3 linked regions of the Homo sapiens genome follow. The protein of the gene in region 2 purifies or fractionates together with the protein of the main gene of each other region. This does not show direct contact. Each region holds a gene or a part of one and is shown on either strand. Other genes may lie near its edges.

Region 1 (3,500 bases), on a different chromosome or scaffold from region 2:
AGAATCCTTGTCCTGGCCCTGTGCAGTGGCCACACCTGTAATCCCGACACTTTGGGAAGCTTAGATGGGAGAATCCCTAGGGGCCAGGAGTTCAATACCAGCCTGGGCAACATAGGGAGACCCTGTCTCTACAAAAAAAATTTTTAACAATTAGCCCGGTGTGGTGGTGTGAGCCTGTAGTCCTAGCTACTTAGAGGCAGATGTGGGAGGATCACTTGAGCCCAGTTTGAGGCTAGTCCAGGCAACATGGCAAGATCCTATCTCTACCAAAAATATATATAAACGTGCGTGTGTGTGTGTGTGTGTGTGTGTGTATAAATATATAAAAGAATCCTTGTCCTGCCTGTCTCATGGGCAGCTTGGAGGAAACACTGTTTTTTTGTTTTTTTTTTTTTTGAGATGGAGTTTTGCTCTTGTTGCCCAGGCTGGAGTGCAATGGCACGATCTCAGCTCAACTGCAACCTCCACCTCCTGGGTTTAAGCGATTTTCCTGCCTCATCCTCCCGAGTAGCTGAGATTACAGGTGCCCACCACCACACCTGGCTAATTTTTTGCATTTTTAGTAGAGATGGGGTTTCACCATGTTGGCCAGGATGGTCTCGAACTCCTGACCTCAGGTGAGCCACCCCACTCGGCCTCCCGAAGTGCTGGGATTACAGGCATGAGCCACTGCGCCCAGCCTGGAAACACTATTGACAAGTGAGGAGGCCTAGTCCATTGAGTATCAGCTAGGGCTACAAACTTCCAAATCGGTGAATCAGGTCCAGAGAGGGACAAGTGCCCCAGGGTTACACAATCATTTGCTGAAGCAGAGGTTGCTGCCATCTTTGGCCTCACCCAACTGGACCACTTCCTTGGGCACTGAGTGACATAGCTCCAGCAGGTCTGGATTCTGCAGCTTGGTCCTTATCTTCTGGCTCAGGGTCAGCTCCGGGCTCTGAGGAAGGGGCAGGGGCAGGACCTGTCTGTCAGCAGGGCCATGTAAAGGCAGCTGACCTTCTCTCTGAGCTTGGTCAGACTTTGGGCAGTTCATCCCCTCCCCACCCCTGTTGTTGAGCTAAGCTGGGGACACCTGACCCCACCCATCTCCTTGCCGGCCCATGTGGACACCAGTGTGCCAGCACGTGTGCTCCATCCCTCTCTGGGCTTACCGGCCTGTGCTGCTGCAGGGCCTCCAGGACCGAGCGGGCCTTCTCAAAGGGGGGGATCTTCAGCCTGTAGTGGGGGCAAGGCAAGCCATGCTAGGCAGTGGGGAATGTGGGCACACCTGGCCCACCGCAGTCCCCATGCCCATGCCTGCTTGCTGACCGGTACAGGATCTCTGCCCGCAGATAGTTGCCAATGCCATTGAAGAACCTCTGGTCCAGGAGGGCCTCGCAGATGGGCCGGTCAAAGGCCTTATCCGCTAGGTTTCGTAGCACATTCTCCCTGGAGGAACACGGTCTGGGTGCGTAAGACCCATCCCCACCCTCCATGGGATGGGGAGAGGGGCTCAGAGAACCTGTTTCTGGGTGCAAGGGGAAGGAAACTGGGAGTTACAGTTCCTCTTCTCCCTGCCCCCGTTTTCCTATCTGTTAAATGGGAACATCAAGGGATTTAAATTCATTGTGAAAGGACGGCCAGGTGCAGTGGCTCATGCCTGTAATCTCAGCACTTTGGGAGGCCGAGGCGGGCAGATCACTTGAGGTCAGGAGGTCGAGACCAGCCTGGCCAACATGGTGAAACCCTGTCTCTACTAAAAATTCAAAATTAGCCAGGCATGATGGTGGGTGCCTGTAATCCCAGCTACTTGGGAGGCCTGAAGCAGCAGAATCTCTGGAACCTGGGAGGTGGAGGTTGCAGTGAGCTGAGATCGCAGCATTGCACTCCAGCCTGGGCCACAGAGCGAGACTCCATCTCAAAAAATAAAAACAAAATTAAAAATAAATTCATTGTGAAAGGTGAAAAATACTGATCTAAAGTAACTTGAGGCTGGTGTGGTGGCTCACACCTGTAATCCCAGCATTCTGGGAAGCTGAAGCAGGAGGATCACTTCAGCCCAGGAGACCAGCCTGGGCAACAAGGAAGACCCCATCTCTACCAAAAATTTAAGAAGTAGCCAGGGGCTTAGTGATGCACTCCTGTGGTTCCAGTTAATCAGGAGGTTGAGGTGAGAGAATCACCTGAGCCCTGGAGGTTAAGGCTGCAATGAGCTGTGATGGCGCCACTGTACTCTAGCCTAGGCAACAGAGCGAGACCCTGTCTCAAAAAAAAAAAAAAAAAAAGCAACATGAGGTTGTATATGAGGTTGTGTGTTTATCACCTCAGACTCCTCAGGACATGAGAACAGTGTGGCCACAGGACCTCAAGTGTGTTTGCAGTCTGGAGCTCCCTGTATAGCATTTGTGGTGGGTTAGAGACCATATGTGGGTTTGCCATTGGTAGGGTCCATTCTTCTCAAGATCCTGGACATTGTCTGGCTCTGTGCAGGAGATATGTGGAGTACCAGTGAGGGCCCTAGCAGCCCCCACCCCACCTCCAAGGGTCATGGGTCTCCCCTCCTCACCGTGAAGAGGATGTGCATCTTGTTTCTTTGCGGAAAAGGGTCATGGCAAGACTGACTAATGGGTGTGATGAGTGGGTCAGAAGACAGAGTTCTGGGGTGAAGGTACAAGGGTAGCCTGGGAGGTGCCCTGATCCCTGAGGTAAGCCAATTGCCACACGCCCCAGCTGGGGGACTAAGAAAACAGCCCAAATGCTCGTGGTTTGAGAGAAACTTCAGAGCCAGCTGGCAGAGTTAACTTGTGGCGTGACTCCCCAGGAAGGCTGAGGTGGGAGGAATCCAGGACCAAAGACAGATGTTTCCCTGGGGATGTGCTTGGAGTTCACACAGGGGAAGGCCAGGAGTCAACTTTCTTCTAAGGCACCAGAGACATCTCCAACCCATCCCACAGGTATCCAAGTCTCCTAAGGGTCAACGGACGCACAGCATCCCCCAGAAAGGGAGAACTTGCCAACCCTACTCCAGGCCTCTGCATTTGTGACTCTTGCCAGTTCCAATGCCTTCCTCTGGCTGGCTCCTTCTCATCAGTCAGGCCTCAGCTCAAACCTCCCTAGAGTGGCCATTGCTAATGTACCCCCACCCTCGGCCAAGTCATCCTCTACCTCCTTCACCTGTTGGGTTTTCCTAAGGCATGGGTCCATTTCTCATTCCCCTATCCTATGTGAACATCAGTTCTGTGGGAGCAGGGACCACATTCATCTTGTTCACTGCTGTACCCCGAGCCCCTAGAACAAGGCCTGGCATGAAGCAGAGACTCATACACGTTTCCTCTTCAGAGGAAAGGAAGTGGCCAACACTGTGCCATGTGAGGTGACCTGCATCACATCCCAGGTGGGGCTGTTACACCCTACTGCAGGCAGGGAAGTGGCGCAGAGGAGACCACAGGACACAGAATACTGGGCAGGCCGGATGTGGGAGACCACAAAGCCCAAGGCGGAAGCCATGTCATGAGATAGTC
Region 2 (2,983 bases):
TAGGAGACCATGGAAATCATCATTCGGGAAAACCAAAGACAGACCAGAGAACATCTGAGTTCCTAATCAATAAGCCAAATGGGGGTGACTCAGCAGAGCCATGAAAGGAGCACAATTAAGGAGCGGCAATAAAAATGTATGACAAAGAAAAATGAGAAACCAGTTACTGTAGCTCAGGTCCACTTTACCATGAGCCAAAGTAAAATCTAAAAAGACTTTAACTAGGCAATACAGGCCTAACACTTGCGTTGAGGAGACAAGAAGAGAAGCATGAGCTCTGAAATTCTTCGAGGAAAGGGAGTGTAAAGATGAGCATTTCTGAGTTGTAAAGGGATAGAAAAGATGTATTCAGTAGTTTGCTACTAGGTCCTAATAATATTTAAAGATATGCATCCAAAATAAATGAGATAACTGGGGAAAAATGAGAATAGACTATTAAGAAAACTATATTTTTTGTTAGAGAAGATTTGGTTTTAAATTCCATTTATACAGCTAAGATTTCATATCATGCAGGCAATTTTTCTACATGTCAGCATTCTGACAAATGTCTGCCTCAGTTTATTATTTAAAACAATTAAAATAAGTGAGTGACCCAAGGGGTAGAGAATTGCTGCAATCTCTCCAAACTCCACAGCTAACTTGTATTTTGTCATAAGATAGCTAAAGGTCATCAAAATAGAAGAAATATAGTATAGGAAAAAAAAGAAGATAAATGAAGTCATAGTTTTAATGGCTCTCACATGAACTTCTGTGCTGGGGTCTCTACTGCCGGTAGCATAGAGTTTTATTTGCTTGGTATGTCTCCATAAAGATCTTACTAAAAGGAAAAATGATATCAGTGACACAATAAATGGGACAATTGCAAACAGGTTAAAGAGAGTCAAGGGTTCAAAGTATGGTATTTTACTCACATGGAACATTTCAGTAATGTTTCTTTTATGTTTGGCAATTGCATGAAACCTATAATCACAACTCAGTACTATTGCTGCTATAAGGCTGACCAACAAGGAAATGGCAAAGCATCCCAGCAGGATCCAGTGCACCACCATATCAATTTTCCACTTCAGCCAGAGAAAAAGTGGATGAGAGGAACTGGCTATCTTCAGAAAATAGAAGACATTAAGGCAGGTGGTAATCCACATATTTAAGTAGTTGGCAAATGTCCAGAAGGTAAAAATGACTATCTGTTGTTTATTTTTTGTATAAACATCTGGGTTCAGTACTATTACAATGCCATTTACAACCATTACACTGATCAAACAAATTCTGGCGATAACTAAATTGGTAAGGATGTAGTCAACTGTGGAAATCTTTTTCTTCTTAATCCAGTCAATCCAGTTGACTAGTGCAATGTATCCATTCCCCAATATTCCTAGTATGAATTCTCCAGTTATTAGGATTATAAAGATGTTATCTGCAGGACTGAACATGTTTGTAGAGAGAACAATCTGATTTCAAATATCACTGTAGATGAGCTAATTTACAGGTGACCTGTTAAAGCATGATAGATCAATTCTTCGAATCATGCAATAATGTTTTCATCTGCTGTTATTTCGACGTTGTTATTCTTCCGGAAGTGTTCAGCTCTCCTCTGAAATAGGATTGTCTCTACACTCCTGAAGATGAAACCAACTAATGAGCAGCTTGACTAGTTATTTATAGCCTGGAAAAATTATAATTATTATCCTTTAGTGAGTGATACCTGAAATGTTTGGCTGAAATTGCTCCCATGCAAATTCAAAGAGATTTTATATCATGAATTTGCAACAGGCTTCTTGCTGTAGCTCTATATTTGGATCTTCAAATTGAGTTTTGAATAGGGAGTCATAAAAAAAGAGATAAATGTTTAATAAAAACCCAACTGTGTAAATAAAACTTCATTTTCATCATGTAAGTTATAAATAAGCCACAAATCAGTTCTCCCAGATGCAAAGAAATTTTCACTTTGGAAGTAATTAGTACAATTAGATTGTAGATATTTAACATTTAGTCAGAGGATAATAATTCTTGTCTTCATTTAAACGGCTAATTAGGGAAGGATATAATACAAATCTAATTAGAAATGACTTTTTTTTAGGCAGGCACATGATAATATTTACTAAGAATTTGCTTTCTTTTCAATTGTTCCTCAGAAGTGAAATATGCCAGGTAAAGATTTGTTATCTTTAGTTTTTTTTTAATGTGACAAATACCCTTGAAGACAATTCATTTCCTGAATCACTGTCTCTTGTATAATAAGCATTGTAATCTAAAATTAAGAAAATTTAAATTTTACATTATTCTAGTTCCAATCAACTCCTTTTATAAGATTTGTAATCTCACAGTGCATATTATAGTCATATTTCTAGATAGGGCAAACACATAAAAAAGTAACTACTTGGGAGACTGAGGCAGGGGGATCATTTGAACCGGGAGGCAGAGGTTGCAGTGAGCCAAGATCGTGCCACTGCACTCCAACCTGGGCGATACAGTGAGACTCTGTCTCAAAATAATAATAATAATTTTTTTTTTTTACATACCAGTATTTCCAAGGAATAGGACTAATTCTACTATTAAATTAGATTTATTTGTTTTGGGGTAAGGGAAAGTACAACTTAGCCCAAAATACATTTGAATGTAGGTAATACAAATCACAATACCCTAGGGCTTCTTGTATTTAAATAGTTCTACAATGTATACAACACATGCAGGATTTTTTCTATTTCTTACATGTGTGTAATGTGTAACAGGAAAGCATAAACTTAATAACTTAAAGAAACCTAGTTATCTATAAACTACTGCTGGAAACAAAATAGAAAAGAAAATGATGCAGAGGGAAAAAAATATGTCAGAGATTTCTGAGTTAGAAGGCTAGAGAGAACATTCCAGGGAATCTTTGGGAAATGACTTCTAAAATTGCCATCACCAGCTAGAGTACTCATGAACACGCTGACTACTGGGACCCTCAACCTTCTTTCTCAAGGTGGTTCTGCTATACATAACT
Region 3 (3,500 bases), on a different chromosome or scaffold from region 2:
AGGCACATTCTTCTCAGTTGACATTCCAGAAAAGTCTGCCTTGGCTTCGTCAAAAGCATCGATCATTCCTAATCTTCGAAGGAAAGGCTCCAAGTCATAACTCTCCTCCAGCTTTAATCTGGGAAGGAAAACTTGAACCTTACTTTTTGTCAACTTTTCTGAATTTGTCCAGGCTTTGAATTTCTCATATGTAAGTGCTTTTTCCACCTAGGATAAGAAAGACTCAAACCTTAAAATTTAGATGACAATAGCCTGATACCCACACACCCATTTATTACCCCTCCCCCAATGACATGCAATTAGATGGTGAGTTCTGGTCCAAGAAAATCTACAGATATTTTCTTTTATAAACACACCAAGATTTTCTCCCAAATTTTCATCTTTTCACAGTTTTATGGAGACAAGTGTAAAAGAGCTAGTAAACACCTGAGACAGGCAGAAATTTTTAATAAAAACAATTTGTACCTAACTCCTTTCAAATGTTAAAAACATTTTTTAACAGTTTAGAAAATTCTAACCAATTCATTACATTAATCTTCATGCAATACATACTACTGTGAGTGGGAGAGATTGTTTGACAAAAGACAAAGAGCATGGCTCAGAACTCTGCTTCTGAGTCTAATGAGGGGACTATTCAGGGTTAAATCAGAGGGCAACTCAGAGTAAAAGAGAGGGAATTGTGTTTCATCTGAAGATGAAGGGAGGCATGAGAAGGGAGCATGAGACGAGAAATGGGGAATGCAAGAAGACTTCATCAGCATCCTTGTTTGTCCTCTGCCTGTCCTGGAGTTAGCTTCAAATTCTTCAAGATCCATCACTCTTTCTATTTATCAATAAGGTAGAAAGAAAAAAGGGAGAAAGGCCTTCCACTAGCATCTCCCCTTCCCTTTAACAACTGGAGCCCAGGTGGGTACTCCTCTCCAACGAGCATTGTTTTGATTTTGACTCTATTTCTAGACTCTCCTAATTTTCTCATAAGTGGCCACAACAGATGTCATCCCTGACTTAGGGCAGTAGCTTTCTGATTCCAAAGGGAAGCCAGGAAAATCAAGCAGCCCACCCTCAACATCCTGTGCATTGGTGTGCCAGAGCTGACCCCTATCAATTGTTAAACCCTCAGTAGACTAAAGTCGGCCATGGTGGGAGTATTTACCATGTCATGAGAATCAGCAAACTTTATAAATGAAGGCTTCTCCCACCTCCCAGAGCTGGTTTACAAGTGCACTATTAGTCTTGCACCTCCTACCTTGCAAGTTTACCACTTCCCTTCCTGGACTCTGTTCCTTTTCTGTCACAGTAAGACTTTTCTCTCCTCTTGTATAAGGTAAATTTCCCACCTGTACTTTAGACTTTTGCTATTCATAGTGTGGTTCCAAGCATCTGTATCACTTGGAATCTTGTTACAAATGCAACATCTCAGGCCACACTCCATTGAATCAAAATCTGCACTTTAACAAGATCACTAGAATCATATATGTGCATTAGTGTTTGAGAATCACTGCCAAGATTGATCCCTACCCTTCTTCCAGGACTTTTGTGCAATAATCATTGGGCTTTCAAATAGACCTTCCATGCAGAATAAAGAATAATATTCCAAATAATAATATATTTAGAACTCTCTCTTCTTAGCTTCATCAAAACTTGTCCACTCATATATGTATACACTCAACAGAAATGCATGAACATGTTCATCAAAAGACACACAATGATGTTCACCCAGCACTGCCTGTAATAACCCCAACTGGAAACTCCTCAAATGCCAATTGGTAGATGAACATAAAGAAATGAGCTCAGCTGGACTCCACAGATACTCAGGCTCATTGCCTGGAGCTTACCACGGCGAGGTCCGTGTTGTCATCGGGAAGCAGAATGACCATGCTCAGCTCCTCTTCCACATAGGGCAGCTCCAGGACCTGGGTGTGTACCTCATCCGCATACCCCATTTTAAACTTAGCTTCCTTAAACATCATCTGCACTGTCTTTTTTTCCTAACGGAAAAATTAAAGTTCGATTACTGAAAAGTGGGTATAATTTACTAAAAATAGGATATATCTAACTCACAGAAACTCTAGGTGTGTATAATTACTGTTTCTGCACATTTATGCTGATAGATATAAAATCTTCATTAGTACATCTTAGTATTGAATAGAACAAGCTATTGTTCCAGCAGATCAAATATTACCAGGTGAGAAAAAAAAAACAGTTTGGTAAATGGAGAAGGACACAAAAATTGACATTATCCTTGGAAGAAGCTGTGTTTGCTTTTTTGAGAACATTCACAGAGAAGCTTTCTCATGGAAGCTTCCAACTAAAAATTCTTTATCGAAGTTAAGATAAATATTCAGGCCCTTGGGCTGAAGGATCTGGTTAGAAAAGATGTACGGTCCAAACTCTGGAAAGTTGCCTTGTTGTAGAATTGGTTTTATGGCCTTGGCTTTCTTAGGAAGGGGACCTTGAAGAGATGTGTAAGGTCTGCTGTTTTTAAAGCCTGCATCAAATATATTTTTAACTTTCATATCTTTGTGCAATATGAGAGTATCATATTTGATGGATGTCAAATCCCAAGCTAACAACTATTGATACCAGCCATTTTAATATTCAAAAGGGAAGGTAAAGTTAGGCTTTACATCTGCTAACTTTTTTTTCTTGTGCTCAGGATTGTATAACTTTGACTTTTAAGGCAATAAATAGGCATAGTTGCCACTGATATTGCAAAAAGGTATCTAACTAAATACAGAGAGTAATAGCATCATGCAAACATAATTCCAAGGCTTAGAAGAAATTCTCCTCCAATCCAAATCATATGACCAGAGATGGAAGGTAGATTTGATCAAAGATGGAAAAACAAAACTATCAATACCAAAATTATTTTTGTTTCTCTCTTCCTTCCGCCATTAAAGATACACAGGAGGCATTAAATTCATTCAGAAAAGAAGCCAGGCACAGTGGCTCCTGCCTGTAATTCCAGAACTTTGGGAGGATAAGGCAGGTGTATCACTTGAGGCCAGGAGTTTGAGACCAACCTGGGCAATATGACAAAACCTTATCTCTACAAAAAATACAAAAATTAGCCAGGCCTGGTGGTGTGCACCTGTAGTCACAGCTACTTGGGAAGCTAAGGTTGGGGAATCATTTGAGCCTGGGAGGTCGAGGCTGCAGTGAGCTGAGATTACACCACTGCACTCCAGCCTGGGTGACAAAAAGAGACCCTGTCTCAAAGAAAATAAAATAATATAATATAATTCAGAAATAGATTAAAATCAAGATCATGTCAAATAAATTATTCATTTTTCCAAGAGAATATTTCCTGTAATATTACTTTAAGAAAGTAGCAGTATATCTGAAAAATCTTTCCCTACCTCGTTGGTTTTAAAGAGCATTCCCCTTGTGTACTTTCTGTCAAATTGCTCATTCCACTTTCCCTTGAAATAAATGGCATTCACAAGGACCAGCTTTGTCAGGGGATCGACTGTCCCAGCATCCAGTACCTCTGAAATCTT

What was found. Proteins that work in one complex are often made in the same cells at the same time.
Region 1: the proteins of TAS2R8 (region 2) and NEIL1 purify together in Homo sapiens (affinity purification with mass spectrometry; one large-scale study listed by BioGRID and IntAct). This does not show direct contact.
Region 3: the proteins of TAS2R8 (region 2) and SERPINB8 purify together in Homo sapiens (affinity purification with mass spectrometry; one large-scale study listed by BioGRID and IntAct). This does not show direct contact.

Annotation. Positions count from the first base shown.
Region 1 is NC_000015.10:75,350,039-75,353,538, reverse strand, and holds part of NEIL1 (endonuclease 8-like 1), read right to left. Parts: intron 2,239-3,500; coding exon of another isoform or gene 2,163-2,238; intron 1,508-2,162; coding exon of another isoform or gene 1,429-1,507; coding exon 1,309-1,428; intron 1,216-1,308; coding exon 1,152-1,215; intron 938-1,151; coding exon 838-937; coding exon of another isoform or gene 797-837; exon of another isoform or gene 557-796; intron 1-556. UniProt on the Homo sapiens protein: Involved in base excision repair of DNA damaged by oxidation or by mutagenic agents. Acts as a DNA glycosylase that recognizes and removes damaged bases.
Region 2 is NC_000012.12:10,805,551-10,808,533, forward strand, and holds TAS2R8 (taste receptor type 2 member 8), read right to left. Parts: upstream 1,737-2,983; 5' UTR 1,431-1,736; coding exon 501-1,430; downstream 1-500. UniProt on the Homo sapiens protein: Receptor that may play a role in the perception of bitterness and is gustducin-linked. May play a role in sensing the chemical composition of the gastrointestinal content.
Region 3 is NC_000018.10:63,983,581-63,987,080, reverse strand, and holds part of SERPINB8 (serpin B8), read right to left. Parts: coding exon 3,360-3,500; intron 1,989-3,359; coding exon 1,836-1,988; intron 824-1,835; coding exon of another isoform or gene 815-823; exon of another isoform or gene 431-814; intron 208-430; coding exon 1-207. UniProt on the Homo sapiens protein: Has an important role in epithelial desmosome-mediated cell-cell adhesion.